4 linked regions of the Homo sapiens genome follow. The main gene of each other region encodes a partner of the protein of the gene in region 3 in a complex. Each region holds a gene or a part of one and is shown on either strand. Other genes may lie near its edges. The genes, in order: PPP4C, PPP4R1, PPP4R4 and PPP4R3B.

The links.
Region 1: PPP4R4 (region 3) and PPP4C share a complex: the UniProt entries of both Homo sapiens proteins name them as parts of the PP4 complex.
Region 2: PPP4R4 (region 3) and PPP4R1 share a complex: the UniProt entries of both Homo sapiens proteins name them as parts of the PP4 complex.
Region 4: PPP4R4 (region 3) and PPP4R3B share a complex: the UniProt entries of both Homo sapiens proteins name them as parts of the PP4 complex.

What each region holds. Positions count from the first base shown.
Region 1 is NC_000016.10:30,078,978-30,085,891, reverse strand, and holds the end of PPP4C (serine/threonine-protein phosphatase 4 catalytic subunit), read right to left. Parts: intron 4,693-6,914; exon of another isoform or gene 4,634-4,692; coding exon 4,582-4,633; intron 3,409-4,581; coding exon 3,358-3,408; intron 3,147-3,357; coding exon 3,045-3,146; intron 2,499-3,044; coding exon 2,325-2,498; intron 2,238-2,324; coding exon 2,111-2,237; intron 1,227-2,110; coding exon 1,037-1,226; intron 960-1,036; coding exon 830-959; 3' UTR 516-829; downstream 1-515. UniProt on the Homo sapiens protein: Protein phosphatase that is involved in many processes such as microtubule organization at centrosomes, maturation of spliceosomal snRNPs, apoptosis, DNA repair, tumor necrosis factor (TNF)-alpha signaling, activation of c-Jun N-terminal kinase MAPK8, regulation of histone acetylation, DNA damage checkpoint signaling, NF-kappa-B activation and cell migration.
Region 2 is NC_000018.10:9,604,530-9,611,560, forward strand, and holds part of PPP4R1 (serine/threonine-protein phosphatase 4 regulatory subunit 1), read right to left. Parts: intron 1-7,031. UniProt on the Homo sapiens protein: Regulatory subunit of serine/threonine-protein phosphatase 4. May play a role in regulation of cell division in renal glomeruli. The PPP4C-PPP4R1 PP4 complex may play a role in dephosphorylation and regulation of HDAC3.
Region 3 is NC_000014.9:94,169,956-94,177,321, reverse strand, and holds the start of PPP4R4 (serine/threonine-protein phosphatase 4 regulatory subunit 4), read right to left. Parts: upstream 3,001-7,366; 5' UTR 2,857-3,000; coding exon 2,740-2,856; intron 2,270-2,739; exon of another isoform or gene 2,115-2,269; intron 1,862-2,114; exon of another isoform or gene 1,595-1,861; intron 1,269-1,594; coding exon 1,195-1,268; intron 1-1,194. UniProt on the Homo sapiens protein: Putative regulatory subunit of serine/threonine-protein phosphatase 4.
Region 4 is NC_000002.12:55,614,592-55,622,083, forward strand, and holds the start of PPP4R3B (serine/threonine-protein phosphatase 4 regulatory subunit 3B), read right to left. Parts: upstream 3,032-7,492; 5' UTR 2,695-3,031; coding exon 2,553-2,694; intron 916-2,552; coding exon 860-915; intron 1-859. UniProt on the Homo sapiens protein: Regulatory subunit of serine/threonine-protein phosphatase 4 (PP4). May regulate the activity of PPP4C at centrosomal microtubule organizing centers.

The sequences.
Region 1 (6,914 bases), on a different chromosome or scaffold from region 3:
CACCCCCCCACACACACTGGTGCAGGCCACACCAGTCTGTTGTTCTGGGACCAGAGTATTTTTGTTAATAAAACTCAAAAGCCATCCATGCTCAGGAAACATTGGGCTCCTGTGTTTGGCCCTGGGCGGGGCTGGGTGAGCAAAGGCTTTGCTAGGAGACCCAGGCCCAGATCTAGACCTGTGTTTCCAGCTGCCTGACCTAGCACAAAATCCACTGGCCCTCTAGGCCCATCTCCTCTTCAGGAAAATGGAGAAATCAGAATCCTGTGATTCTGTGTGTGCCTGTGTGTGTATGCTGTTAATAAGATAAGGCTGCCCATGAGAACAGAGCCCTCTCCCTAGGGCTGGGGAAGCCAGCAGGCAGCGGCCCCTGGAGGCCCTGGGCAAGCTGACTGGCCTGAGCCTGGCCCTCTTGGCAGGTCGGGGCCCTGAGGCAGTCAAGGCCCTGACGTCCACCCCAGGTCCCAGGCCAGCAACCCTGTGCATTCCCAACCAAGTCTGGCACAAACCCAAAAACCATTTTTCTTCTTTTATTAGAATTTTTTCATTTTTTTTCTCAAAATTTTTATCTAAAAACAAACAGAAAAAAGAAGGAAAAAAAGAAAAAAAAATTATTGGAAACTTCATGGTTCAAGTGGGGAGAGAGGAGGAGGAACATGGAGCTAGGTCTCCAGGCCTCTCCAGAGAAGTCCTCACCCTCGAAGCACCCTCTTGGGGGACAGCAGAGCCAGGACAGCCCCCCCCACGCCCAGCCTCCGTCTGAGGAAGATGGCAGAGTCACAGTGGTGCGAGGGCCAGAAGGGTTGGAGGGGGCAGGGGCCGGGCGGGGTCACAGGAAGTAGTCGGCCACGGGCTTCTTGGAGGGGATGCCCCGTGTCTCTTGGGGAGCAGCCTCAAAGATGATGAAATCTTTCTGGAGATGCTCGTCCAGCTCCAAGATGGCTGCCACATTCCCACAGCTGGAAGGCGGGGCAGCAGGGTCAGGAGCAGCTCGGCTCAGATGCCCGCCCATCCCAGCCCGGCCCAGCCGGCTCACCGGTAGCAGTAGTTGGGTGCCGACCACACAGTGAGCACCGTCTCATTGAAGTGCCACTTGTAACCTTCCATCACCAGTTGGTGGGCACGGCAGATCATGTCAATGTCATTGGCTGCGTTGAACTGGGCCACCACGTCACTGCCAAATAGGTAGCCGGCTCCTCGGGGGCTCACGCCCCAGCCTGTGGTGTCTGATGCGGAAAGGGAGGGATGGAGAGGGATGTCCTCAGGCTTCTCTGGCTGCCAGCGCTGCCCCTTGAGGGTGAGCAGCCTGGCCCCTCCCCAAGTCCACCAGAGGCCCGTGGGACCAGAGCATGGGGCCTGAATATGGTCTGTGGGATGGCGGGGACCAGGACAGCAAATGTAGGGGCAGATAAGCTCCAGAGGAGAAAGAACGCCCAATGCCTGGGGCCCCCTCATAATCACAGTGATCATACAATCCCCGTCCAAACAGCACATAAGAGTGAAAGGGGCACTCCCAGAGACAGAAGGGCACCCTGTGTTGTCACAGGGAGGTCCGGAGTGACTGTGGAGCAGCGGCTGCATGTGTGTGTCTGCATGTGTGTGTCTGTATGTGTGTGGCTGTGATGGAGCAGAGGCCTCGTGTGCGTGTGTGTGGCTGTGATGGAGCAGAGGCTATGTGTATGTGTGTGTGTGTCTGCGCTGGAGCAGAGGCTGCCTGTGCGTGTGTGCCTGTGACAACAGGAACTCTGGCTGGTCCTCAGAAGACCTGACTTTAAATCTCAGCTCTGCTCTACACTAGTGGAAAACCCACAAAATGAGGGGTCTCAGGGGGCTACCATTCTGGGGTTCTGACCTCTGAAGAAGCTGCTGTCATGTTCTAAGGCCCCTTCACTTCAGGGAGCCATGACTTGGTTGTCCTCCACAGCCCTCTGGGCCATGCCCCAAGCCACTGTGTGCTCAAAGCACCTGCCATGCAGGCCTCCCTGCTCCTCCTCCAGGGTTCCAGCCATTTGGCAGGTGGAGGACGAGTGACAGTGAAGACCAGCCCTGCTCCCTCTCTTTCCCAACCCCTCCTGGCTGTCCCTGCCTGCCCCTGCCCACATGCCCTCACCTTCTGGGTCAGACCAGAGGAGGTCACACATGGGCCCATCATGAGGCACCTCTTGCTTTCGGTCGATTGTCCGAATCTGATCCAGGGTCTGGATGGAGGGGGAGAGGCCCCCGTGCACGCAGAAGATCTACAGGGGAGAGCAGGGAAAGAGGACGGGGCTGAGGCCTGAAGCCCCCCTCCTCTCCCTGTCCCATGGAGCCCTGGGCTGGCTTACCTTGCCATCGATGATGGCTGACAGGCTGAGGTAGTCAAAGATCTCAGTGCAGTAGCGCCACACAGTCACCGAGCCGTACTTGCGCAGGCACTCATCGTAGAAGCCATAGACCTGCGTGATCTGGCGACTCTCATGGTTGCCCCGGATCAGTGTGATGCGATCAGGATAGCGAACCTGGGGGTGGCCACCAAGCCAGGGCTGGCGCCTAGACGGTCTCTCCACACATCCCTCTCTGACCTCCTCGTGCCCGCCAGCCTGCCATCCTCACAACCACTGCCCAGCACACTCCTGGCACCTCTTGCCTGAATCGTGTGGCATCAGCCACCTCCCAGGCCCACACGACCCCTCCAGAGAATGTAAAGCTGACCCATTCCCTCAACTATGAACCTAATGGCTCTTCTTTCACCTACCAGACACAGACCGGGTCCCTAGCAAGGCACCCAGGCCCTTTGTCATCTGGCCCCACACTGCCTCTCCCACCAGTGGCATCAATGACCTGCCACATTCGCAACAGTGAGCCTCTGCCCCTCCCAGAATGCTGCCCCGCTGGCCTCAACCCCCATCAAGTCTCTGACCACCCCCAAAAGCAGAATCGGTCCATCACCAGTGACACAGCTCCAAGGTGGGGCTGGTCACGATAGGAGATGAGGGCGGAACGGACTAAGACAGGCCCGGCCCGAGGTCGCCCAGGTTGGGGGTGCAGAAGCCGGGGACTGCCACCTTAAGTGCCAGCAGCAGGAGGAACGTTTCGACGCTATAGAAGCCACGGTCCACAAAGTCCCCCATGAAGAGGTAGTTGGTCTCAGGGACGTCGCCACCTACCTGTGGGGAAGTAGAAAGTTTTGCCCTGTCGTAAACAGTCCCCTACCCCCTACCTGTTTCTGTCCAGCGGAGGCCCTTCTTCCACAACCACCCATCTAACTTGGGGCCCCTTGCCCCCACTCCACGCCCCAAATTAAGGCTCCCACCCTCAATTACAGGGGTCTTCCAGTCATCCCCCCGTTACATTTCACAGTGTTGGCCACACTCTTACTCTGAACAGCTCTTTGAGGTCATAGAATTGTCCATGGATGTCGCCGCACACCTGGGGAACAGGAAGAGTGGGGTTGGAACTCAAGCAGTGGGAGTTGCCAGGGACTACCCTCCAAACACCCGCTGCTTTAGTGAGCTTTATCACTCTTGGCTGCACTTCTACTTCCTAGGACCAAAATTCTCCTCTCCCACCCCAAGTCAGTCTGGTCTGGAACCATACCCACTGTCCTATGCTGAGTACCAACTATTCTGTAGGCAAGAGCTAGAACTAAGTCCTTCCAGGTAGATGTCCCGGCCCCTTCCTCTCTCTACTCCCCACAAAGTACCCAGAATCAAGTTACTAACACAGAGCCCTGGAGATATGTGAGCAGAATCACTCGCCAAATAGGAGTCCTTCTGCCCTGGCCAAGAATCTCCACTAACAAATCCAAAGTCCCTTCCCATAACCCCTTTCTTTTCTTTCCTTTCTTTTTTTTTTTTTTAGACGGAGTCTCACTCTGTCGCCTAGCCTGGAGTGCGGTGGCGCGATCTCGGCTCACTGCAAGCTCCGCCTCCTGGGTTCACGTCATTCTCCTGCCTCAGCCTCCCGAGTAGCTGGGACTACAGGTGTCCACCACCACACCTGGCTAATTTTTTTGTATTTTTAGTAGAGATGGGGTTTCACCATGTTAGCCAGGATGGTCTCGATCTCCTGACCTCATGATCCACCTGCCTCGGCCTCCCAAAGTGCTGGGATTACAGGCGTGAGCCGCCGCGCCCGGCCTGTTTTTTTTGTTTTTTTTTGTTTTTTTTTGAGACGGAGTCTCCCTCTGTCACCCAGGCTGGAGTGCAGTGGCCTGATCTCAGCTCACTGCAATCTCCAACTCTGGGGTTCAAGCGATTCTCCTGCCTCAGCCTCCCAAGTAGCTGGGATTACAGGCACGTGCCACCACGCGTGGCTAATTTTTGTATTTTTAGTAGAAACGGTTTCACCATGTTGGCCAGGCTGGTCTCGAACTCCTAACCTCAAGTGATGTGCCCACCTTGCCCTCCCAAAATGCTGGGATCACAGGTGTGAGCCAACGTGCACAGCAACCCCCACTTCTTTTAGCAGTGCTCCGTTGAAGGTGAGGGAAAGGACAGATAAAAGAGCTTAGGGTTGGGCTTATAGAGCCCCCAAGATGAAGAGGAAACTTCATGTGCCTGAAAGACCAGGCCTGGCTCTGCAGGGACAGCAGGTACTCACTGTGACTGGCGAGTCCACCCTCTGCACGTTGCTCTCCTCTACCAAGATCTCTCTGGAGACAGGAGAAGACCAGGGTCACCACAGCCAGGCCAGCCCAGCCCAATTCCTGACCTTTTTTGGGGGGAGGGGAGGATATGAGGCAGTCCTGGAAGCTCCAGGGGGCAGGAGTGAAGCGTACAGTCTCCCCAAAACAGGCTGACCACGGCCCTTCAGCATGCAACACCCTTCCGTGGCCCCCTGCTGCCAAAAGGACAAAGTCCAACCTCTTATCCCAGCGTTCCAGGCCTTCTGAGCAGGCTGGGACTTTTCCAGCCCTGACTCCCCCTGCCGCTCCCTCTTCCGCATCCAGGACTCACTCCTGGGAGGCGGGTCTCCCCATCCTCTCCACAGCAGAGCTTAAGTCACCCTTGGCCAATCACAGAGCCCTTCTCCCAGGCTATCCAGACACAAGGGTAGGTGCCCAGGGCAGGCCCACAGTGGATGCGCCTTCAAAGTGATGCGCTCTTGGCCAGGTGCGGTGGCTCATGCCTGTAATCCCAGCACTTTGGGATGCCAGGGTGGGCAGATCACGAGGTCAGGAGTTTGAGACCAGCCTGACTAACATGGTGAAACCCTGTCTCTACTAAATATACAAAAATTAGCCAGGCGTGGTGGCGCGTGCCTGTAATCCCAGCTACTTGGGAGGCTGAGGCAGGAGAATCGCTTGAACCTGGGAGGTGGGGGCTGCAGTGAGCTAAGATCGCGCCACTGCACTCCAGCCTGGGCGACAGAGCAAGACTTCATCTCAAAAAAAAAAAAAAAAAAGTGAGGTGCTCTTGCCATGTGTTCAGTATTTCTTTATGACTATGAGGACTTAAATATTTTTTATTTCTCCTTGCAGTGCAGTCTACTTCTACTTGAGTGAGCAGGAGATGAAATCACTTTGCCAGGTAAGACACCCAATTTTTTTTTTTTTTTTTTTTTTTTGAGACAGAGTCTGGCTCCATTGCCCAGTCTGGAGTGCAGTGGCGCCATCTTTGCTCACTGCAAACCTCTGCTTCCTGGGTCAAGTGATTCTCCTGCCTCAACCTCCCGAGTAGCTGGGATTAGAAGCATGTACCACCACGCCCAGCTAATTTTTGTATTTTTAGTAGAGTCGAGATTTCACTATGTTGCCCAGGCTGGTCTCGAACTCCTGACCTCAAGTGATCTACCCACCTTTGCCTCCCAAAGTGCTGGGATTACAGATGTGAGCCACTGCACCCAGCCTATAGATACCCAATTTAAGCAACACTGTATTTCCAAATTTTGCCTGGTAATAGCAGCAGTGAACATTCGAGCTCATACTGTGTGCCACAAATGTTATTAAGAGCTTGGCAGGCAGGTACTATGATGATTCCCGGTACACAGATGAAGAAATTGAAGCAGGGAAGGAGGCTGGCTTGGTGCCAGTGACACAGGTGGGATATGAACCAGGGAAGCCTGGCTCTGGGGTCTGACTCTTTATCAAGATATTCTGATGTGGGAGGCCCAACTCGCCTGGCCCCCCTCTTTCTGCCAATCTCTTCCCTTAGAATGAGTTTCCTGAGCTCAGTGGACAGGAGGATTCACTTATGCCCCTTGCTCTGTATGGCAGAGGCAGCACGAAGGAGGTCTGCCCTGGCTTTCTGGGAACAGAAGGCAGCACTGGCGGTGGTCCAAGAGGCCACATCAGTACCCGGACTCTCCCACCTGCACTGCTTCTTGTGCTGAACATCCTTCCCCATCAACTGCTCATAGTGACCTTTCCAACAGACTGGGGAGGTTCTCTTCAGCCTCACGTAACAGTAAAGAAACCGAAGCTAGGCCGGGCGCGGTGGCTCATGCCTGTAATCCCAGCACTTTGGGAAGCCAAGGCAGGCAGATCATGAGGTCAAGAGATTGAGACCATCCTGGCCAACATGGTGAAACCCCGTCTCTAGTAAATATACAAAAATTAGCTGGGCATGGTGGCGCGTGCCTGTAATCCCAGCTACTTGGGAGGCTGAGGTAGGAGAATCACTTGAACCTAGGAGGTGGAGGTTGCAGTGAGCCAAGATCAGGCCACTGGCACTCCAGCCTGGGCAACAACAGCAAAACTCTGTCTCAAAAAAAAAAAAAAAGAAAAAAAGAAACCAAAGCTTACAGAAAAGCGGGAGGGTCAAGGTCACCAAGCTGGAGAGTGGCTAAATTGGAACCCAGAAGCCCAATTTCCTGAGAATTTATGCCAGCCCCTTCCACAGACCCTGAGTGAAAACCTGAAGCCCAGGGAGGTCACATGCAGGGCCCGTGCTCTCTGCAAAGCCCCCCTCAGTGCCAGCGCAACCCCAGTGTGG
Region 2 (7,031 bases), on a different chromosome or scaffold from region 3:
ACTTTTCTGTCTTATGTGGTTTCATCTGTTCCATTTCTGTCCTCTCTAACCTCATCTCAGCTTAAATTTACCTATTACTAACAACACCCAGGAGGCATTTTCTATTTTCTAATTAAGAGTTCTTCCTTTTAATTCCCTGCCGTCTTGGGTGCCCTTGCTTTTACTCCACCAATAATTGCAAAGTATTTTTCCTTTTTTTCATATTCTCCTACCTTCCCTTCTCCTCTCCCTCCCCAACATATATAAATTCCCTAAAGATTGTCTTGCTAAACTTTTCATTATCTAAAAAACAGAGTCCAATGCTTCTCATGGAGGCACATTCATTAATATTTGTTAATGAAAATGTAGTCCATAGGGATAATTGATAAGTCAAGAGTTTACTATACTTTATCCTTCTCTAAGATATTCACAAGCACATTAGCATATTAATACCTTGAGAAGTATCACACCAAAGAGAACTTTTTAATTCGTACAAACTTTTATCAAAATTGATCAAAACACCCTTCTATTCTCTACATAATCTCTAATAATGTAACGTAAAACATAAAAAAGCTCATAGTCTATCCTTCCCTTCAGTTTTTCCCTAGATACTGCTCAGGCCACAATAAATCGGCCACATTTTGTTTCCCATCTTTACATTTTAGAAAATGAAAGACAATGAGATACACCACAGAATGAGTTACCTTATAAAGATTTGGGGCTTTAAAATTATATTTTAACAAATAAATATACCAACAAATGAATAGGGAGGAAGATCAGGCTCTTCTATAAAGCAGAATGTCAGCTAGTAAATGCAATTAATTCAGGCAAGAATCATCAACACATTCTAACACTAAATGGGTAAATGTTTGGAAACAGGGTATTTCCCCATTGTCAAACTATTTCCTTACTAATTACAATAGGAAAAACAGAATCTTTACAGTGGAGCAATTTGATAGACATCACCTCCACACTACCAGTAATGGACACTGCTATCAGGTGCTCCTTAATCTGAAGCACTGAGAAAACTACACTATCACTTATGTAGCAGTCCTGTCAAAAAAAAAAAAAAAAAAAAAAAAAAAAAGGAAAGAATAACCTGAATCAAATCATGAGGAAACAGATAAAACCAAATGGACTCTTCAAAAATGTCAATTTCATGAATGCTAAAGGCTGAGAAATTGTTCCAAACTAGTAAGTTTGTAAGTAATGTCCTTACAGCAAAAGACAGTTGCCATAAGGACATTACTGGGGATATTTCAATATGTACTACATACTATATAACAGGATTGTAGCAATGTTAAATTTCCCAAATTTCATTACTATGATTGTAAAAGTGCCCTTGTTCTTAGGAGACACAGGCTAAAGGTCCCAATGACCACAACCTATTTTCAAAGGTACACCAAAAAATTACATTACATTGTGTGTGTGTACATAACTGTATAGAGAAGTAACGAGCAAACTGGCAAAATGTTAACAGCTTAATTCAGGTGAAGAGTTGGGAATTCATTACAATATCTGTGCAGCTTTTGTATAGGTCTGAAAGTTTTCAAAATAACAAGTTTAATTAAAAATAATTTCATTATTTGACCCCAAATTAGGTTTACGGTCTTATTTAGCTTGGTGTGAAACATCAAGATTCATTCAATACTTATTCTACATTAAGCACTGATGAGATGTATTGCTGAACACTGTGTGATGAGTCAAGAATAAAAATGTTACAGACCTTGGATTTTATAGCACAGTGAAGGGGTTGGCCAACTACAGCCAGCGAGCCAAACTGGCCCACCTTCTGTTTTCGTAAATAAAATTTTATTGGATGACACTTACTTTCATTCATTTCTGTATTGTCATGGCTGCTTTTACCTTACAACAGCAGATCTGAGTAGCTGCAACAAAGATCATATGGTCCACAAAACCTAAACTATTTAATATTTGGCCTTTTACAGGGACCATACAACATAATCTTTATAGTCTCCAGCAACAGGTATGTCAAACTTTAATTTTGTACTTTGCAATAATATAAATAATGTTTATCAGAAACCCTTCCTTCAAATATCAATACTAAAAGCTTACTAAATCCTTAGAAATGCAAAATTGTCCTATAGCACAACTGAATTTAAGGCAAGAATAATTTGCTGAAGTATACTATATGTATATTCATATATGTATTTATATTTATATATATACACCATATGTATAATGTATTTCTATTTATATAATACAGTAGTGGCATGTTTATCTAGTTTCAAGTTAGTTACCAAGATTATGTATACAAACAGTATTTAACAGAAAGGTAGTATAACAAAGCACTTGCTCTGACATACACTTGTGGATCTCCCAAATATTATAGATATTTGTTCCCTTCAGTGAGTAAAAATTTTCTTTGCACTCTTAACGCAATTACTTTGGTAGTAACCTTTTTTCCCACAGGTAATCCAAATACAAAATTTGAACTAACTCAGGTCCAAATTGCCACCAATCTTAAATAAATGAAGTATTGAATAAATGAGTTATTTCTATCAAAAATGAATTTCATAGATTTAAATATAAAAGTGATCTACATCAGGCTGGGTGCAGTGGCTCACACCTGTAATTCCAGCACTTTGGGAGGCCAAGACAGGTGGATTGCTTGAGCTCAGGAGCTCAAGGCCAGCCTAGACAACATGGCAAAACCCCATCTCTACCAAAAATACAAAAAAATTAGCCAGGCGTGGTGGTGCAGGCCTGTGGTCCCAGCTACTTGGTAAGCTGAGGTGGGAGGATTACTTGAGTCCGGGAAGCAGACGTTGCAGTGAGCCAAGATAGTGCCATTACACTCCAGCCTGGGCAACAGAGCCAGACCCTGTCTCAAAAAAAAAAAAACAAAAACAGAAACATGGATAAATGAAAGTCAAAACCGAGTAGTAGAGACATGATGGTCCATCTGCCTTTGTATATGTCTTAAGTATCTGTAATATATAACGAACTCTCAAAATTTAATAAGAAAATGTCCCAATGAAAAGATGAGCAAAAGATGTGAAAAGGCACTTCACCAAAGGAGATAAGTTAGATGGCAAATGAGCACATAAAAAGAGTAACATAATTAGCCATTAATGCAAATTCAAGCCACAAATTAATACTATTATACATTTAATAAGAGTGGCTAAAATTAAGACTGCTCACACTAAGTGTTGACAATGATGATGAGGACCTGGAACTCTCATACACTTTTGGTGGGAATGGAAAATGATATAACCACTTTGGAAAACAGTTTGGCAGTTTTTCTTTCTTTCTTTTTTTTTTTTTTTTTTTGGATGGAGTTTCGCTCGTTGCCCAGGCTGGAGTGCAATGATGCAATCTCGGCTCACTGCAACCTCTGCCTCCCAGGTTCAAGTGATTCTCCTGCCTCAGCCTCCCGAGTAGCTAGGATTACAGGCATGCACCACCACGCCCAGCTAATTCTTTGTATTTTTAATAGAGACGGGGTTTCACCATGTTGGCCAGGCTGGTCTTGAACTCCTGATCTCGGGTGATCCACCCGCCTCGTTCTCCCAAAGTGCTGGGATTACAGGCATAAGCCACCGCACCGGGCTGGCAGTTTCTTAAAAAGTTAAACAGCCATTCTACTTCTAGATGTATACCCAAGAGAAAGAACATATATATTCACACAGACTTGTGTGTGAATGTTCATAGCAGCTTTATTTGTAACAGCAAAAAAACTGCAGATGATCCAAAAATCCATCAACATTTTAAAGGTAGAAAGCTGAGAAAAAGTTAACTTGCTCAGATTATAAAGAGAATAAATGGCAGGGCCAGAATATTAACTCAGGTCTAAAGGCTTACCAAGCCCAGTGTTCTTTCCCCTACACAAAACTATACTGAGGTATCTTCCAGAATGACTGCATGATAGATGCTCAAATACCAACCACATTCATATCAATAAGGCCAGAAAGTAAGTTAAGTTTGCTCCTTAGTCTAGGGAGATAAGAAGCTAAGATGACTTAAAAGTTAGGAGAGTTAAGAAATGAATGTGGAGGAAGCAGCATTGATGATGTCACCAGCTCAAAGATCTGTGCTAAAAGCAGAGCAAGTTCCAGACCCTCTTATAGAAATTAGAGGGAATACCTCCTCAGCCAAAATTCCATAGGTGTGCCATCCAGACTTCTGCCCAAAACACTAAGTTAGGTTTATTCTCAGCTCCAATTTAAAAACAACAACACAACTCTAATTCAAATTTAGGAACTTTCAAATTCTTTTACTCCAAAATATAAAAAAAAGATGTAATACAAACATAGGAGCAAGGTAACAATAGTTTAATAAACATACATTCATTGTTTTGAGGAGACTGAGAGAAAAGGACCAGAAATAATAAACCAGAGATCAAACAAATGTGGCAGCAGACTTCTGAACTTTACCTCCTGAGGTCTATTTATCTTTCACAGGCAGGAACAAACAAAAAGTATGCATTTAGGTGTCTTGGTTTTTTATTTTTTGGAGGGGGGAGGGCAGTGGATCGTGTAGCTACAGGCCCAAGCATATTTACAAAGGGGTTTTTCTCTCTGTCTCTCTCTCTCTCTCTTTCAATTTTATGTGGGAAGTTGTTAGCAGAGGTATCATTAATTGATCCAACACACATGTGGGTACCACTGAAACCATTTTAAAAGCACTCTTTTCTAAGATATCAATGATATTATCTCTAAATAAAGATCTCTCCATCCAGGCTTGTTGGCAGCAGTCAAAACAGGCTACCAGGTCTCACGACTCACCCTCCCAAATCCCTATTTAACAATACTCCTAAATATGATTCACGTTCAAGGGCACCTTCCAAAGGTTTCTGAATGATTCCCTGGCCACTACCAGATACAGCCCCAATATTTTGCTCCTCACCTCCCACCGGAAGCAAGGACTCTAAGCTTATCAGAACTGGTTTTGAAACATGGTAGGAAGGCCTGAAGATTCTGCACAGAGTGCGGTCTAGGCGGTTACCCTCAGTTAGTTCTGGACCCATCCTTCACTCTACTTCAACACCGCCCTTAAACCCGAAAAACAGCATAATGTAAAAGGATTCCAAAACTTAAATATGAAAAAAGTCTGTTGTATGGCATACTCAATAACATAGCTTCAAAAACTTTTCAACGTCATACTTAGTTACAGCTGAGATAAAAGTTAACGACTAAATAAGCTGTCTTATACCCAAGCTCCATCCTCTCTATCATTCTCCAGGTGTAAACTAAACCACATGCAGCATCCCAGATTAATTTTCAAGGGTACTTTAAGAACGAGTTCAAAGAAATTGCCTGTACAAGTTTGGGTTGATCAATATTTTAAACTGGGCCATTTAAGAAAATATTCAAAATATGATATTTAGAATCAGAAGGCCTAGCTTAAAATTCCGTCTAAACTTAGGAGTTTTGTTTCTTTAGTCCCTTTGGGCATTAGTCAACTTACTTATTAGTATTAGAATACCACAGCCTACACATCACAGGACTGCTGTGAAGAATAACCTGTGTATGAAAGGCACTGTAAACTAAGCGTTACATAGCCATTCTTTAAAAATAACATTCTTCAACATATTACTTTGATAAAAGCTTAAGTTCTAATGAAACTCCTTCAATGAAATTATTTTTACAAGCATTGGCTCATCAAATCTTAACCGTATCTTAGTCTCATTTCATTTTAGGAATCTACCAACTTAAATGTGAATCAAAATTGCATCTTTGGAAACTAAAACAGAAATCTGAAATAATTTTTTCTAAACATCTACAATTTTGTATTGTCTCCCATTATTTAAGGAACATAATTAAATATAAAAAGTTAAAAAGGGTTTACCCAACTCTGAAATCTGCTGAGATAACCTATGTTCAAATGGAGTCACTGGTTTGCTTTCAATTTGAAATTCAAAGTATTTCATGATACAGTACTGAAAGTTTCACTTTTAAACTTAAATACATATGGTTTTTATTGCATTATTCTCCTAAACTTTTTTTTTTTGAGACGGAGTCTTGCTCTGTCGCCAGGCTGGAGTGCAGTAGCACAATCTTGGCTCACTGCAACCTCTACCTCCTGGGTTCAAGCAACTCCCCTGCCTCAGCCTCCTGAGCAGCTGCGACTACAGGTGCACGCCACCACGCCCAGTTAATTTTTTTTTGTATTTCAGTAGACATTTCACCATGTTGGCCAGGATGGTCTCGATCTCCTGACCTCGTGATCCGCCCACCTCGGCCTCCCAAAGTGCTGGGATTACAGGCATGAGCCACTGCACCCAGCCTATTCTCCTAAATTTAAGAGTACCTGATAATGATTTCATTTACTTACCTTTATAAGTTACTTGATAAAAGTTTAAGTTCTAATGAAACTCCTTCAATGAAATTATGTGTACACACACACACACACACACACACACACAAATACCATCCATTTTTCCCTCATTAGGATTTTTTTTCCTCCAAAGGTTATCAGTCAAGTCAGTCTTTGACCAACCTTTTCCCCGACTCTGTGCCTCTGTACAGAGACGGGATTAAAACAAATCAAATCGAAAGACCTGAGACTCTTAGCAATGTCTGGCAATGCCCCTCTTTCAAGTCCTAGACTCCAGCTAGGTCCTTTCCTAGATCATCTGCACAACAGAACTTACTGTCTCTTCCCTCATAGTCCAGGTTCTGCATTTAGGAAGGTCAACCAAGATTCTAGAGCTTGACCAGAAAACAATTTCTTCCCATCCCAAGGGCCAACTTACACCTAGCTTGGCTGAAGTAGTAGGACTTGTTTACAACTACTCTGGAGGTTGGGCTCCATACTCTGGAGTTTTACCATAGACAGAGAAACTCAGGCTCACGAGATAACAACCGTGTTATAAGGGCAGCCCAAGCTCCGTTCCTCTACCTTTGGGTCCTCTACCTTCTCCAGCTTCTCCAGGATGTGACAGCTGTCTCAGTCCTTTACCAACCATCTTGCTCTCTAAGGAGGCACCATGGCCCAGTGTTCCCCCTCATTCTTTCTCCCTTCACAAGAGATGGGAAGTGGTCCTTCAACTGGCCATATGTCCAAAAGTCCTTTGTTCCTGAATATTC
Region 3 (7,366 bases):
TTTGAAGTAAATAGAAATGATGAGAGCATGCTACCACAGATACCCCAAAGAGGGGGGAAAATAACATCAACATAAAGTCTAAGATGCAGAAACATTTCTAAATGATACAATTATCAGAGGGAATGGTCTACATGGTAAATATGCTGATATTCTGACTAAAGTTACAACAGAAACTCATGATGCCACTTTTAGAAGGCTAAAAAAGTAATTAAGAAAATTGAAGACCTGGAGAGGGATTTTTTTTTTTTACAGAATCATTCAATGAGTAACATGGGACTGGAACATGATCTGTAAACAAGAAAGGAGAACGAGAAACTTGCCAGTACCTGAAACTGGCGCTGAACTAAGGAAACAAGGGTGACAAATATCCTAGGAGGTAAATTACATCAGTTTTCAAAACCTGATTCTGGAAAAAAAAAGAGTGACTAATTTGCCAAAAGGGAAAAATATGTTGTGTAAGCTAATGAACAATTTTAAATAAACGCAAAATGCTGTAGGAAATTTGTTTCTAAAGGATTTTAATCAATTAATTAAAACATCATTCATGTTCACTGTATTAGTTTTTAAGATGCTCAATCTACAAGACAATGTTTTAAATAGTTCAGAAAAATCTTGTAAATATTTGCAATAACCATTTGCCTTAAGCAATTCTGTAGAGCCTGTGAGATGGTTTGAAATTGAAATGACAGTAGGCTCGACCAAATTTCTAAAACCCCTCAGACAAAATCATAAAGCTTGCACGGCAAAAGTAATACAAACAGGATATCCTGAACAGCAAAATGAACTACCATATTTGTGGATTTTTTTCCGTATAGTAGATCCCGTATAATGTTCCTACTCTACAATGAACTTAAAACTAATCACTGTATACTCAAGTCTCATGTAAACTTACTGAATCTTACGCGAGAAAAACCAAAGCCAGAAAAGAAAAAAAGGATGAGGTTCAACTCCAACCATCTGCTCTTGCTCCTCCAAGCAACATTCTATAAATTAGGTATTTTATTTAAATTCTCAAAGTCATAAGTCCATAGCCAAATCTAATTTATAATATAGTTAAGTACTATGCACACAAAAGTACTCTGTTCAAGTGGCTAAGTAAATCTGAACATAACGCGAACATACATTTTAGAAAGCATTCATCTCTGCTGCACAGGGAAAAAAGAAGAGCAATTTCACAGAAAGACTAGGAAATACCTGAGCAGATAAACAGCCCTTTCAATATCACTGAGGTCTTCATCGACTGTCAATCTTTCTATTTCTTCCGGTGTCTGTCAAGGGTAAAATACACATTTATGCACCACAAATATTGGTTCAGTCTTGCCCCCCAACCTCCCAGTGACCCTCTATGAGGATAAACGAATGAAAAAGTTTCACAATTAAGCATTAACAATGAAAACTAATCAAGGAGCTGAGGATACCAGGCGACATCAATCACGGAGGTCTCTAATTGGGTGGTTTGGGGAGTTTGGGGAGGGGGCTGTATTTTTCTGTTTTTATCCTTCTAGCTCCTGGACTGCAGCTTGAAAATCACATCGTGGCTTCAGAACCTTGGCTGAAATCCATTTCATACGCATGTTATAAAACGAATACACACACTTTTTATCTCTAATACTTCAAGGCTATTTCTCCAGCATTTTCCACCCCAAGAAATGCTAAAAGGGAGATGGATGAAGACTGCAGCCGAGTAGGCATGAAAAGGACAAGATCTGGAGTGGGGGAGGGAAGGAAATAAACTCCGGGGCTGGAAAAAAACCAGAGATTTGAGATATTGCGGCAGGTGGGAGTGAGAGGCGCTAAGGCAGCTAATTAAGCAATGGCCAGGGGAAAGGGGTCCGGTCCGTAAACTAGGTTTGCTGGCGCTAAAGGTTGGAGCCGCCGGGAGGAAGATGACTCTGCGGGGTGGGAGAGCCAGTAGGGGTGGGGGGAGCAAGCTGAAGCTTGACCCCCTCAAGGGGATTGGGGAGCTGGGTCCCAGCTACAGTCCTGGAGGGGATGGGAGGAAAGGATGAGCGGTGACTCAGGATGGCGGCAAAGGGTCGCGAGGGCTTGTAGACAGGGACCAGGACGACACTGAGAAAGAGTGCTGGCTGGGAAGCGAGGGGAGGCCGGGCTACCTCGAGGGCAGAAGGACCCGAGCTTGATCTGACTTGGGCTGGGGGTGAGGGGACGGGACGCGGGGTGGTGTCTCCGGGAGAGGTGGGGGGAGGAGTTGGGAATGTGTGGACCGATGGGTGGGCCTGGGGCCAGAACCCGGGCGGCGTCAGCGGACCAGAGGTTGGGGAGCCCAGGAGAGGACCGGGGAGAAGTGGGCTGCGGCCTCGAGGGGCAGCTCCTTTGGGGGGGGGGGGCGGAAGGAAGGGGGTCCGCGACGGAGGACGCTGGGGCTGCCCCGAGGGCTGGAGCTCGGCCGTTCCTGGGGGTGGGCCGGGGGGATTCGGACGCCTCAGGAGGGGCAAGGGCCGCGGGGCTGGCGCCGGTCCGGGGCTGGGGCAGGGACCCGTCCCTTGGGGATGGGGGTCCAGACTAGAGAGGACCCGGTCCGCTCTGAGGAAGGGTCCGAGAGGGAACTGGCTTAGGGCGACACGGCAAGAGGGGTGGAGGAGGAGGGGCCGGCCCGACTGAGAGGGTCCCGGCGGCCCGGAGGAGGGGAGGGTGGTGGCGTGGGGCAGAGATCAGCGCGGGACCGCGCGGGGCAGGCGGCCGGACGCCGTGAGGGCAGGTCCTCTCCCCGGGGCGCACCTTGAGGCTCCGGCGGACCGGCCTCTCGATGATGGTGAGCTCCTGCAGGTCCTCCATGTAACCGAACAGGCTGTTCTGACTGAAATCCATCGCGGCGGCGGGCGGCGGCGGATGCATGGACCGCCGGGCACTCTCGCCGCCCGGGCCGGAGCGGCCCCGGGATGCCGGACGCCCTCAGCCCCGCGGCCGCCCACCAGCAGGACTTTCTCCGGCTCTTGGCCGCTGGAGCCGAGCGTGAGGCTGCCAGGCGGCGGGAGCAAGAGCACGGCCCGGCGAGGGGGCGGGGCGGGCCCGGCGAGGAGGCGGGGCGAGGCTCGCGGGCGGGCTGCGGGGGCGGGGCCAGGGGCGGGGGCCCGCCACCTTGCCCGCCTCGGCCCCGCCCCTTCCCGGGCGCCGCGCGCAAGAGGCCGGACGCAACTGCCGCGCAACGACCCGGCGGCCCCGCCACCCTTCTGCGCCCGCTCCTCGCCGTTCTCCTAAACCCCCGTCCGCCCCCAACCAAGTGTGCCCCACCCCACAGCGCGTGCGCAGAGCCTTTTGCCTCCCGCAGCCGGCTGAGGGCGGGCGCTGGGGGCGGGCGCTGGGGAGGGGGGCTGGGGGGCGGGGGCTGGGGGGCGGGGAGGCTGAGCCAATGAGAGCGGAAGCAGAGGAGAGGGAGCTGGCTGGGCTGCGGCTGTACCTGCTGACTTAACTGTCCAGTTATTCCCAGGACCGCCCACCCCAGCTGGCGGGCCGTGAACCCAGAGACCCCCCCCAGCACAACTCCAGCCCTGAGGGGAGCGCTGAGTGCCCAAAATAAGCAGTTAGGACGCGGGGTGCCCGGCTGACGGGGGAGGGGGCTGTGGGAATACAGCCCTGGAGGGGCTGGCTTTTGGTCAAGGGCAGCATTCGGAAAAGGCCTCCCAGAGAAGAGTCACTTAAACTGAATCTTAGCGACCGATAAGGCTTTCCCAAGAGAAATAATAAAAGCAAGCCGGTCCGGGGTTGAAGCCTGGGTGTGTTTGGTTGTGTTTGAAAAGTGCCGTCGAAGTACAGCTCGGGGCTCGGGCACCGAGGGCGTGGCGAGGTGGGTGGAAGGAAGAGGACCTAGGTCCTTGATGAAGAAAAGCCCTGCTCTGGACAGCCACGCTGAGTCCCTTGCACTTGGTTCTGTTAAGAATGGGACGAGATGGAAGGGGGATTGGGGCGATTTTTTTGGACCTTGGGGACAAGTTCGTACTGTTCAGCTCGTCAGTCAGCAAGGCCCTTTTCTTTTTTGTTTTTATTTTTTACTCGTTCCTTCTCCACACCCATTCTTCTACCCGCCATATGCACCCTCTCCTCTATTAAGGTATGTCCCAGTTCATGCACCGTATACAGCCTCAAAAGATACATGGTTTGTGTCTGTTTTTAACATATATGAACGGCATTGTGATGAGAACTCATTCTGTTCCTTGTTTTTCTCTCAGTGTCTTAGAGATCTATCCATGTGACACTATACAACAAGAGTTCATTAATAATGACTAATAATAATATTTGATTTGTGTGTCTATCATATTCTACTTATCAATTCCTCAAATAACGGCTAGTTAGGTCGCCAGCAGTTCCTTACTACCACAGACCATGCTGGAATGGATGTTAGACGTGTCCCTTACAGAACATAAGAAATTGAGTCGCTGGGTCATGAAGTCCACAGTGTTTGGTTTCACTCTGTCATGTTGGCCTCCAGATGGCTTTGCCATTCACACCCACCAATGGCACATGAAGGTAGGAAGGTACCCGTTTCCCATTTTATATGCTAACATTTGGTATTATCCGATGTCCTAATTTATGTCAATCTGAAATCAGTAAAGTAGTATCACATTGTAATTTCGATTTGTATTTTTTTGATTGGTGGTGTTAACCATTTTTCCATATACTTAAGAACCATCGAGATTGTTTTCCTTCTGTGAATTATCTATTTACATCCTTTACCTATTTTCTGCTGGATTTTATTATTTTTTCTGAATGAATTGAAGCAGTTGAGTTTCTTATATGTTCTAAATATTAATCTTTTGTCAGTTTTAGAAAAACACTGCAAATATTTCTCTCAATCTTTCATGCATCCTGTTTGCTTGGTCTTTGCTATGCTGCAATGGAGGAGAAATCCTTAATTTTCATTTAGCCTAATGCATCAAATTTTAGCCTTGTGCAGTGTGGTCTTGGGGTCTTGTTTAAGAATCTTTTCCCACCTGTTAGTCGCAAAATATTCTCCTACATTTTCCCCTAGTTGGCTTCATACTTTTACCTGTCACAGGTCTTAATCCACCTGGGGTTCACCTTGCATACAGTTTGAGCAGGAATACAGTATTATTAACTCTATTTAGTGAGCCAGTTTTCCCAGCAGCACCCACCAAACAATCCATCTTTTCCCCTCAGATGCATGATGGCGTCTGTATCGTATGCCAAGTCCCTAGAGACACACACGTCTGTCTCTGAGCTCTTGTGGCTATTCTATTGATCTAGATCTGTTCCTATGCTAGTGCTGTGCTGATTTTATTGCTGTGGCTTAATTATACATCCTAAGATCTGGTAGAGTGAATCTCCCACTCTTGGCTCTTTTGTTCTTCAATTTTGCCTTTGAAATTCAAAGCAAAATGGTCAATAATGATGCCCACAGCTAAAATTCAGGTTTTCTAATCCCTGCTTTACTAAGGAAAAGTGAAGGGAAGTAGAAGAGGACAGAAACATAGGATGAGGATGGAAAAGAGGCAAACACATGAGGAGGTGGTTTTCTTAAGCAGATATCTTACAGCCTCCCCTTTCTGTCAATTTCTGAAATTCTCTGCCTTTTGATTTGTAAATGATACAAAATATTACCTGTCAACTTTACCCTGTTCCAGCTAAGAAGTATTATCTCACATTTGGATTTTGTAACAGTATCTTCTAAAACTGGAGGGCGTTCTTAATGAACAATTGATTGAATATACAGATACGGCTTTAATGTTGGCCGTTCCAGGGCAGGAGGGTGATGAAGGGAAAATGTTCAATTTGATGACTGGAATTTGTAACTGCTCTAATTACCACTCTGTGGTGGAAGTAGCCTGCCCAGCCTGGCTGCCAGGAAACCTGAGTCCCTGTCCTGGCTCTGCCAGTGACATGTGGCAGAATGACTCTTGGATCTCTGTTTTCCTTATCTGAACTGCTTTCATGCATGTTGTCTCAACGTGCCCTCAAATCATCCCTGTGGAATGCAGAAAAGCTGCATCACTATTCTAATTTTACAAATAATGAAATTGAGGCTCAGAGAATTTATGTGACTTAGTCATGAACACACAGCTAACTGAAACTAGATTTATCCACTTTGTTTATTCATTTAAAAATAGCATGGTAGGCCGGGCACAGTGTCTCACGCCTGTAATCTCAACACTTTAGGAGGCTGAGGCAAGTGGATTGCTTGAGCTCAGGAGTTCGAGACCAGCCTGGGCAACATGGTGAAACCCTGTCTCTACAAAAAATACAAAAATTAGCCGAGCGTGGTAGCACACACCTGTAGTCACAGCTACTAGGGAGGCTGAGGTGGGAGGATTGCTTGAGCCCAGGGGCTCAAGACCAGCCCTGGCAATATAGCGTCTCTACAAAAAATAACAAAATTAGCTAGGTATGGTGGTGCACACCTGTAGTCACAGCTACTTGGGAGGCTGAGGCAGGAGGATCACTGGAGCCCAGGAGGTCAAGATTGCATCACTACACTCTTGCCTGAGCGACAGAATGAGACCCTGTCAAAAAATAAAATTAAAAAAAAAAATAGCATGGTGCTAACTAAGCACATGGACTTCGAAGCTCAGGTACTTGGGGTTGAGTCAAACTCTGCTGCTCCCTATCTTCAGCAAAGTATTTCACCTCTCTGCTCCTCACTTCACTCATCGCTAAGCTAGGAATAATAGTAGCACTTAGTACAAAGTGTTGTGAAAATTAAATGAGATAATATGCATACAATGCTTAGAAACATTCTTGGCACAAGTGTTTGTTGTTACTATTATCATTGTCACCAGACCAGTGTCCCTCTGAACCCAGGTTCAGAACAGAGTCAAGAAGTTGTGCTGAATCAATTGATTATAATGGGAAGCAAAATAATGTTTCCCCAAAGACGTCCACATCCTAATTCCCTGAACATATGGGCATGTTACCTTACATGGCCTAAAGGATTTTGATGCAACTAATTTAAGGATATTGAAGTAGGGAGATTATCCTCGTTTACCTCCGTGGGCTCGGTGTAATCACAAGGGACCTTCTACGTGAAAAAGGGAAGCAGAAGTTCAGTGTCAGAGTGATGCCATGCAAGGATGCAACCAGCCACTTTTTTTTTTTTTGAGCTAGAATCTCACTCCACCCTTGACCTTCCAGGTTCAAGTGATCCTCCTGCCTCAGCCTCCTGAGTAACTAGGACTACAGCTGTGTGCCAGCTAATTTTTGTTGTTGTCGTTGTTGGAACGAGATCTCACCATGTTGCCCAGGGTGATCTGGAACTCCTAGACTCAAGGACAACCTCAGCCTCCCAAAGTGCTGGGATTACAGGCATGAGCTACCACACCTGGCTGACTGCTGGCTTTCAATATGAAATGGGGCCATAAGCCAGCACCCTATAGAACTTGGAAAAAAAAAAAAA
Region 4 (7,492 bases), on a different chromosome or scaffold from region 3:
GTACACAAAGAATACACATCAACTTCAGAATAGTGGTTACCTATGTAGGGGATGGAGAATGTAAACAACGGGATGGATACAAACAAGCTTTAACTCTATCCATAATGTTCAATATTACAAAAATATTTGAAACAAATATGGCGTAACATTAACATTGTTAAATCTGGTGGTGTTACAGTAGACACCGATTATTCTCTGTACTTTTCAATTTTAATATATTTCATAATAAAAACAAAAACATTCACAGAATAAAAAAGATTGAATCACTGCTACCATTTTCAGATTAATCAGGCGTGCTAAAATACAATACACATTTTCTTTCCCAAATAAGACAATATTAACAGAAGATGTTACATACTTGGTAATGTACATTTTTATAAAGTATCCATTGATTACTATATTAAAAATACACAACAATTAAAGAGCAGGATTTAATGCTTCTACTTCAAAACCTCTACCTTTACTTGAGTCAAAGGATTTAATTTCACACCACAAACAGGCTTTCCTTGCTTTAAGAGTATCCCTTTGAATTTTGTTCTATGTCATTTCCTTTAAACGTGACTCAGAATAAAAGGTTTCATGTACAAGGTATAGAAGAGACTTGGCTAACTACAGTTAAATAATACTAATAAATACATCTTAGAATAAACCGACAGTGGCTCAATCCAAAAATGATAATTATCACCAGTACAAAAACTTTTTTTCAGTCTGAAACTTTTAACCTGCAAGAGAAATACACATGATCTTTGTTTACCAAACATGTTTTTTTCTTGTCAGGAAAGCTTTCCCACCTTTGTCAGATTAATACTTCCTTGATCACAGATGAAGTCTTTCAAATTAAAGATAAACAACTACTTGCCTGTTGTTTCTGATATGCAGTATTTGGATTTATCTTTGATTCCAAGAGTAGTGATCCTGAAAGATAAAAAATAATACATCATAAGTCTCAAATGATAAAACCCTGAATAAAAATTAGAATACACATTAAAGCCGGGCGCAGTGGCTCACGTCTGTAATCCTAGCACTTTGGGAGGCGGGCAGATCACGAGGTCAAGAGATCCAGACCATTCCAGCCAACATGGTGAAACCGTCTCTACTAAAAATACAAAAATTAGCTGGGCGTGGTGGCGCATGCCTGTAGTCCCAGGTACACGGGAGGGTGGGGCAGGAGAATCGCTTGAGAGAGAGGGAGAGGAGGCAGAGGTTGCAGTAGCCCAGATCGCGCCATTGAACTCCAGCCTGGCAACAGAGCAAGACTCTGTCTCCAAAAAAAAAAAAAAAAAAAAAAAAATACACATTTAAACCCCGCCCCCCGCCCCCGCAAACTTTTCAAGTCTTTTTACCGAGTTGGACATCTTAATAAAATGTATTCGAATTCACATTTTCTCTCCAAATCTAGGCTTCACATTTAATCTAAAATATTTCACCCTATTCCCATACACCCTTAAAGGAAAAATTAATCTAAAACCAACAATCAAACCAAGGAATGAGGAGACTAGATGACTATTAAAATTTTATTGAAATAAAAATTTTAAGGTCTAAATGACCACTTCAAGCCATTCGTTTTAACAAAAGTTGTTTTATTGCATTCCCAGTTTAACAAATAATGCAAATTACAAAACAAAAACATCATGACAGGGATTAAATACTTAGTATAGAAATTACAGTGCTGCATTTATCCTTTCCTCATTAAGAACAAAAGAACACCTTCTGTAGAAGTGATGACTATTTAAAATAAAAGGGAACAAGCAAGAATACAAAATATGTCAAGACTAAACCTAAGATTATTTTTCTAACTGCCTATATCAGTTGTTCAAATCAAGTCCAGATTATACTATAAAAGGCATTTTAATTACGGCTCTACATTTTGTAATTTAAAATACTTCACATGACTACAATAAACCAAAGAACACAGCAGTTTACAACCTGCTTTGGTGTCCCAACTTGCTTAGATTGTAAGGCATTCACTTTCTCATAGCGCCTTCTACAAAGGCAGCCCGAAGAAATGCAGACTACAGATGTATGTGCTTGTGTGTCCATGTATCGTGGCAACAGTCAGCAATACAGCCAGGAAAACGTGCCTTTCGGTTTTCCCCAGCACCTGTCGACTGTGGCACCTGGGGCCCGTTGGTACAATTTTTTTTTTTTAAAAACACTCGGAAAGAAAAGTTTCCCTAAACCGTTTGTACTAGACGTATAATGGATAAGTAAATAAAGGGGGAGGAAGGTGTCAGCTCCTAGGGCGACATCAGTACCTAGTCTCTCACTACTTCCTCCCTTCTCTCTCACACTCTCCCCTCTTCAAAAGAGGAGGGACTGGAAAGGAAGGAGTCCAATCCTTAAGAGAGATGGGAGAAGGACAGAGAGTCTCGGTCTCCGAGGATAAGTCCAGTCAAAAGTACAGTACTTTGTTTTTGCCGTACACAAGAGCCAGTTCAGAACCAACGCGCTGTCCCGAAGGAGTAGCAACGGTAACGGGCCCAGGGCCCTAAACCCAAGCTGTGCCCCAACCAGAGGCACTATCCCCTATTCTACAGTTCCGATAACCTTACCGTCGGACTCTGCCCGAACCAGCAGCGACATCCCCTTGAGCTCCTCCACGTAAGTGGAGGAGACGTGCCCGGTGCCTCGGTCGTCCCATTGCCGGTCTTCGTTCAGGGTATAGACCTTCACTCGCCGCCGCGTATCCGACATGGTGGCTGCTGTCTCCACCGCTCTAGCCGCCGCCTCCTCGCTTACCTCGTCCGCGCTCCTCACTCTTAGGAGACGGTAAAGGCAGTAGTGGCGGTGGCGGCGGCGGCGGCTTCGGAGAGGCCCGAATTCACCATGGCTCCAAAGGTTCAGCCGCGAGAAGGGGTGACAAGAGCCACTGAGGCCTCTCCGCCCGGAGGCCCCGTTACCTCTCACTTCACCCGCGCATACACCCACTCTCCCGTCTCTTTGCCCCCCAGGGCTCGCTTGCTCTCCCGCCGCCGCGGTAACTACTACAGATCCGCCATCTTGTAACCCGACTCTCTCTGCCTTTCTCTTCCTCCTCCAGCAGGCTCGCACGGGCTGTCCTAGCAGGGGCTACGGCGGCCGACAAGTCCCATGAGCAGCACCTCCGCTTCTGCACGCGCTTCCCAGGCCGGAATGCTCGGCGCTCTCGCGAGGAGGGGTACCGACTGGGGCGGGAGTACTTCGGCGAGACTTCCTCCTCTTTCGGCCCGACTTCCTCCTCTTTCGGCCCCGCCTCTTGGCGCGGGGTCGCAATTGGGCGGGAGGTTCTCGCGATCTCCCCGTCCACGCCTGCGCCGCGAGAGGCCGCTAGGTGGAAGGGGACTTCGGTTCCGCACGTCGTCATGTTGTTGGATGGCACCAGTATGTGACGTTCCTAGGAACTTAGCTCTGAGGAAAAAACAAAGCAAACCGGGGAAGTACGTAGCCTTGAACCGGAGTAACCAGGGACAGAAAGGAAGGAAAAGGGTTTCATACCTTCACGGAACGACGCTCACTTCGTCCGCCTGAGGAGGAAAAATAAGTTTAAACCTTTCTGTGAAAAAGAACGTGGAGCCCTTTCTGCCGAATGGAAACCCGCTAAACCCCGTTATGGAGTCTGCTACAATTAAGCATCTAACCAGGAATTGTCTATGGACACAACTCTCCAGGCAATTCATGCAGAAAGTGTGTTGACGATTTCCTGTTTCTTGCAGAGCGCTTCACCGTTAAGGCTCTTAGTAGCTGGCGATTGTAAAGCACATTTTCCGCTTCATGAAAATACAGTGCTCTTCTTGTGTTTGTAACCTTGGAAAGTAAGTCTGCTATGATAAGTTTAGGGAAGTGGCGGGGAGCTACTTTCCTAACATATCTGTGATTGTTTTGATACTTCTCAGTTTCTCGCGGGCATTTCCTGCGTTCTCTATAGGGCTCTCTTGCACTGAATAAGGAAAGGAGGAATTCTCTCTGCATTGAGGCTATTATCGCACATTGTGCGGTGGATATAGTCACGCGCTGGGTCGTAGTAGCGTGTCGTTTATTTCAGTCCAGCTCACTCTTGGTAGAATCCCTTTATTCGTTTTGTTGTTTTTGATAGTCTCTCTCTGCTTCCCAGGCTAGAGTGCAATGGCGCTATCTCGACTCACTGTAGCCTCCGCCTTGAGGGCTCAAGCGATCCTCTCACCTCAGCCTCCCGAGTAGCTGGGACCGTAGACGCCTGCTCCCCATCCCCGCTATATTCGTTCTTTAATACAGTCTCTCAGCTTGTTCAGCTGCCACTTCTGTGCAGCTCATTAGCCTGATCGGTGAAAACTAGGCGAGACGCGCACACTGACCCTGCAGTGCATCTTGGGAGTTGTAGTCATAACTAATCAATGGTCTTGTTAAAACGTGCTTATGTTTTGACCAGATCGCTTAAGTGTGGACACCCTTCAGCAGTACACTACAACGTGGGTCAGTGTACAGAACACATGCTGATAGAAATAATTTCAAAATCTGGATTCATAGTTTTTTTTTTTAATCTAGAGACCTCAGAAAATGTACTTGAAGAAAATCATCATAATATAATACATAACAATAGAGCCAATTAATTGATGTGATGAAAGTGGACAAAATGTATTTTGACCTCAGAGAAAATAACATTTCTGTCTTGGAAGAGTCAGAGAATGCTTCACACAATTTTTGAGCCTGATGTTAGACTCTCCAGCCTTCTGTCCAAGCCTCACCCTTTGGTTACTCCCCAGGAAGACTGAACTTGGGAAGAGGATTGTGCAGACCCTGGAGTCAGGCTTGGCGTTTGGGATAGGGAATACTAGAGTGCCCACAGCATGGTCTGGAAAAGGGAAAGTGGGCTGCAGGTGGCTACAGTCCCATGATTCCATGGATTTCAGACCCCTCCAAAGCACAGGGCTCAGTGCTTATCCAAGTCTGAGGGCCCCCCATAACCACATCTTCCCCAGCAGATGTTCTTTGCTTCAGGCAGTCATCAAAGTTCCACTTCAAAGAGTTGCTAACCAAATAAGCCCACAATCTTCCTTTTTTGTTGTTTTGAATAAGTAATGCCTTTACACATATGAAATTAAAAAGAGAGGCCGGGCATGGTGGCTCACGCCTGTAATCCCAGCACTTTGGGAGGGCGAGGTGGGCAGATTGCCCGAGGTCAGGAGATCCAGACCAGCCAGGCCAACGTGGTGAAACCCTGTCTCTGCTAAAAATACAAAAATCAGCTGGGCGTGGTGGTGGGGGCCTGTAATCCCAGCTACTTGGGAGGCCGAGGTAGGAGAATCGCTTCAACCTGGGAGGCAGAGGTTGCAGTGAGCCAAGATTGCACCACTGCACTCCAGCCTGGGGGACAGTGTGACAGACTGTCTCAAAAAAAAAAAAAAAAAAAAAGGCAAAGATATATAGTGAAAACTAAGTCTTCTTTTAGTCTTTGTCTCCTGCCACTCATAGAATTTTCCTCTTGGAATCACCTCTATTCCATTTTCCTGTGTATGTTGCCAGAGCAGGGCTGGCTTCATGGTGGTGACCTGTACAGATAGGCACTTGGTTTAATGTTTTGCTGTCACTAACTTGAAATTCAGGAAAGTTTCTGGACAAGGGCCCTGCGGTTTTATTTTGCACTGGGCCCACAAAGTATGTATCTAGTCCTATTCCAGAGATATTCTATGCATATACAGGTAATTATATGTAGATATGTATGTAGTGGTCCAGTAGTGGTCCAGGGCCTGTTAGGAACTGGGCGGCACAGCAGAAGGTGAGTGGCAGGGGAGCCAGCATTTCGGCCTGAGCTCTGCCCCCTGTCAGATGAGCAGGGGCATTACATTCTGGTAGGAGTGAGAACCCTATTGTAAACTGCACATGCAAGGGATCTAACCTGTGCACTCCTTATGAGAATCCAACTCCCCCTTTCCATGGAAAAATTGTCTTCCACAAAACCAGTCCCTGGTGTCAAAAAGGTTGGGGACCTCTGTAGTAGGCTACCATCTAGGTTTGTTTAGGTACACTCTATGATGTTCACACAACAAAAAATCACCTGATGATGCATTTTTCAGAAAGCATCCCCATTGTTAAGGGACACATGACTGTAATGGAATACTATTCTTTTCCTTCCTTTTTATTTTTTGTGGAGACAGGGTCTCTACATGTTGGTGCCCAGGCTGGTCTCACACTCCTGAGCTTAAGGGATCTGCCTGCTTTGACCTCCCAAAGTGCTGGGATTACAAGTGTGAGCCACCATATCTGAACCCCTGTCCCCCACTTTTTTTTTCTTTCTTTTTTTCCATACACAGTCCAGGCTGGAGTGCAGAGGTGTCATCTCGGCTCACTGCAACCTCCGTCTCCCGGATTCTAACGATTCTCCTGCCTCATCCTCCTGAGTAGCTGGGATTATAGGTGTCCGCCACCACGCCCAGCTAATTTTTGTATTTTTAGTAGAGATGGGGTTTCACCATGTTGGTGAGGCTGGTCTCAAACTCTTGACCTCATGTGATCCACCTGCCTCAGCCTCCCAAAATACTGGGATTACAGGGGTGAGCCACCGTGCCCAGGACAGCCTTTTTTGGGTCAGTGTGTATATAGAGCTAACTCATTCTACTTAATGGCTACATAGTATCCCACTGTGATAGCCGCAAAAGGCAGACAAATCCTAGGCAGACAGGGGCAGGTCCCTGGTGAAACCCTTCAAGCTGAGGACAGTTTAAAGGCTAGCCACAAGACCAGGATAAATCCACAGACCAGATTGAGAACCTCTCTTCCCATTTGGCGTGCTTTCTTCTGATTGATCCCCACCCTTCACCTATTTTACACATATCCTTTCCTAATTGTTTTTTTACACTGTTGTACCTACCTTTGAGTGGTGCTGTTGTTTTAGCCTTTTTTGCATACTCACAAACCAATCAGCATGCACGCCTTCATTCTGAGCCCATAAAAGCTGTGGACTCAGCCGCACTGAGAGAGAGACCACCTGACTTTGAGTGAGGGACCACCCTTGCATCCTCTCTCTCCTGAGAGCTGTTTCATAGTTCAAATAAAACTCTTCTCCACCCTCCTCACCCTTTGATTGTCAGCGTAACCTCATTCTTGGACGCTGAAGAAAAATTCGGGACCCACCAAACGCAGATACAAAGAAGGCTGTACACACTGTGGCCCTTTGCCCTCTGCTGGTGGAGGGCAACCGTCCCACACAACGCGATGGGAAGCAGCAGTGGGGCAGAGCCAGTCCTGAAGCCACGGGCCTGAGTGGGGCAATGGGACTGATAGAGCTGTTAACATGCCACTGTCCGTTGGCCTGCAGACGGCAGAACTAAAAGAGTGCTTAGCATACTGTAACACCTCTGGGGCTTCAGGGTCATGAGCACCCCTGTTTGGGTGCCACCACATTTCCCTCAATGTGACACACCTGGTCCAGCCACAAGCCCCGCACAGAGCCCACTCCTGCCCTGTACTCGTTCACTCACACACCCCCTCCTGCCAGGGGCTGAGGCCATGGTGGCTGCAGGATTCGTGCCTGAGCACA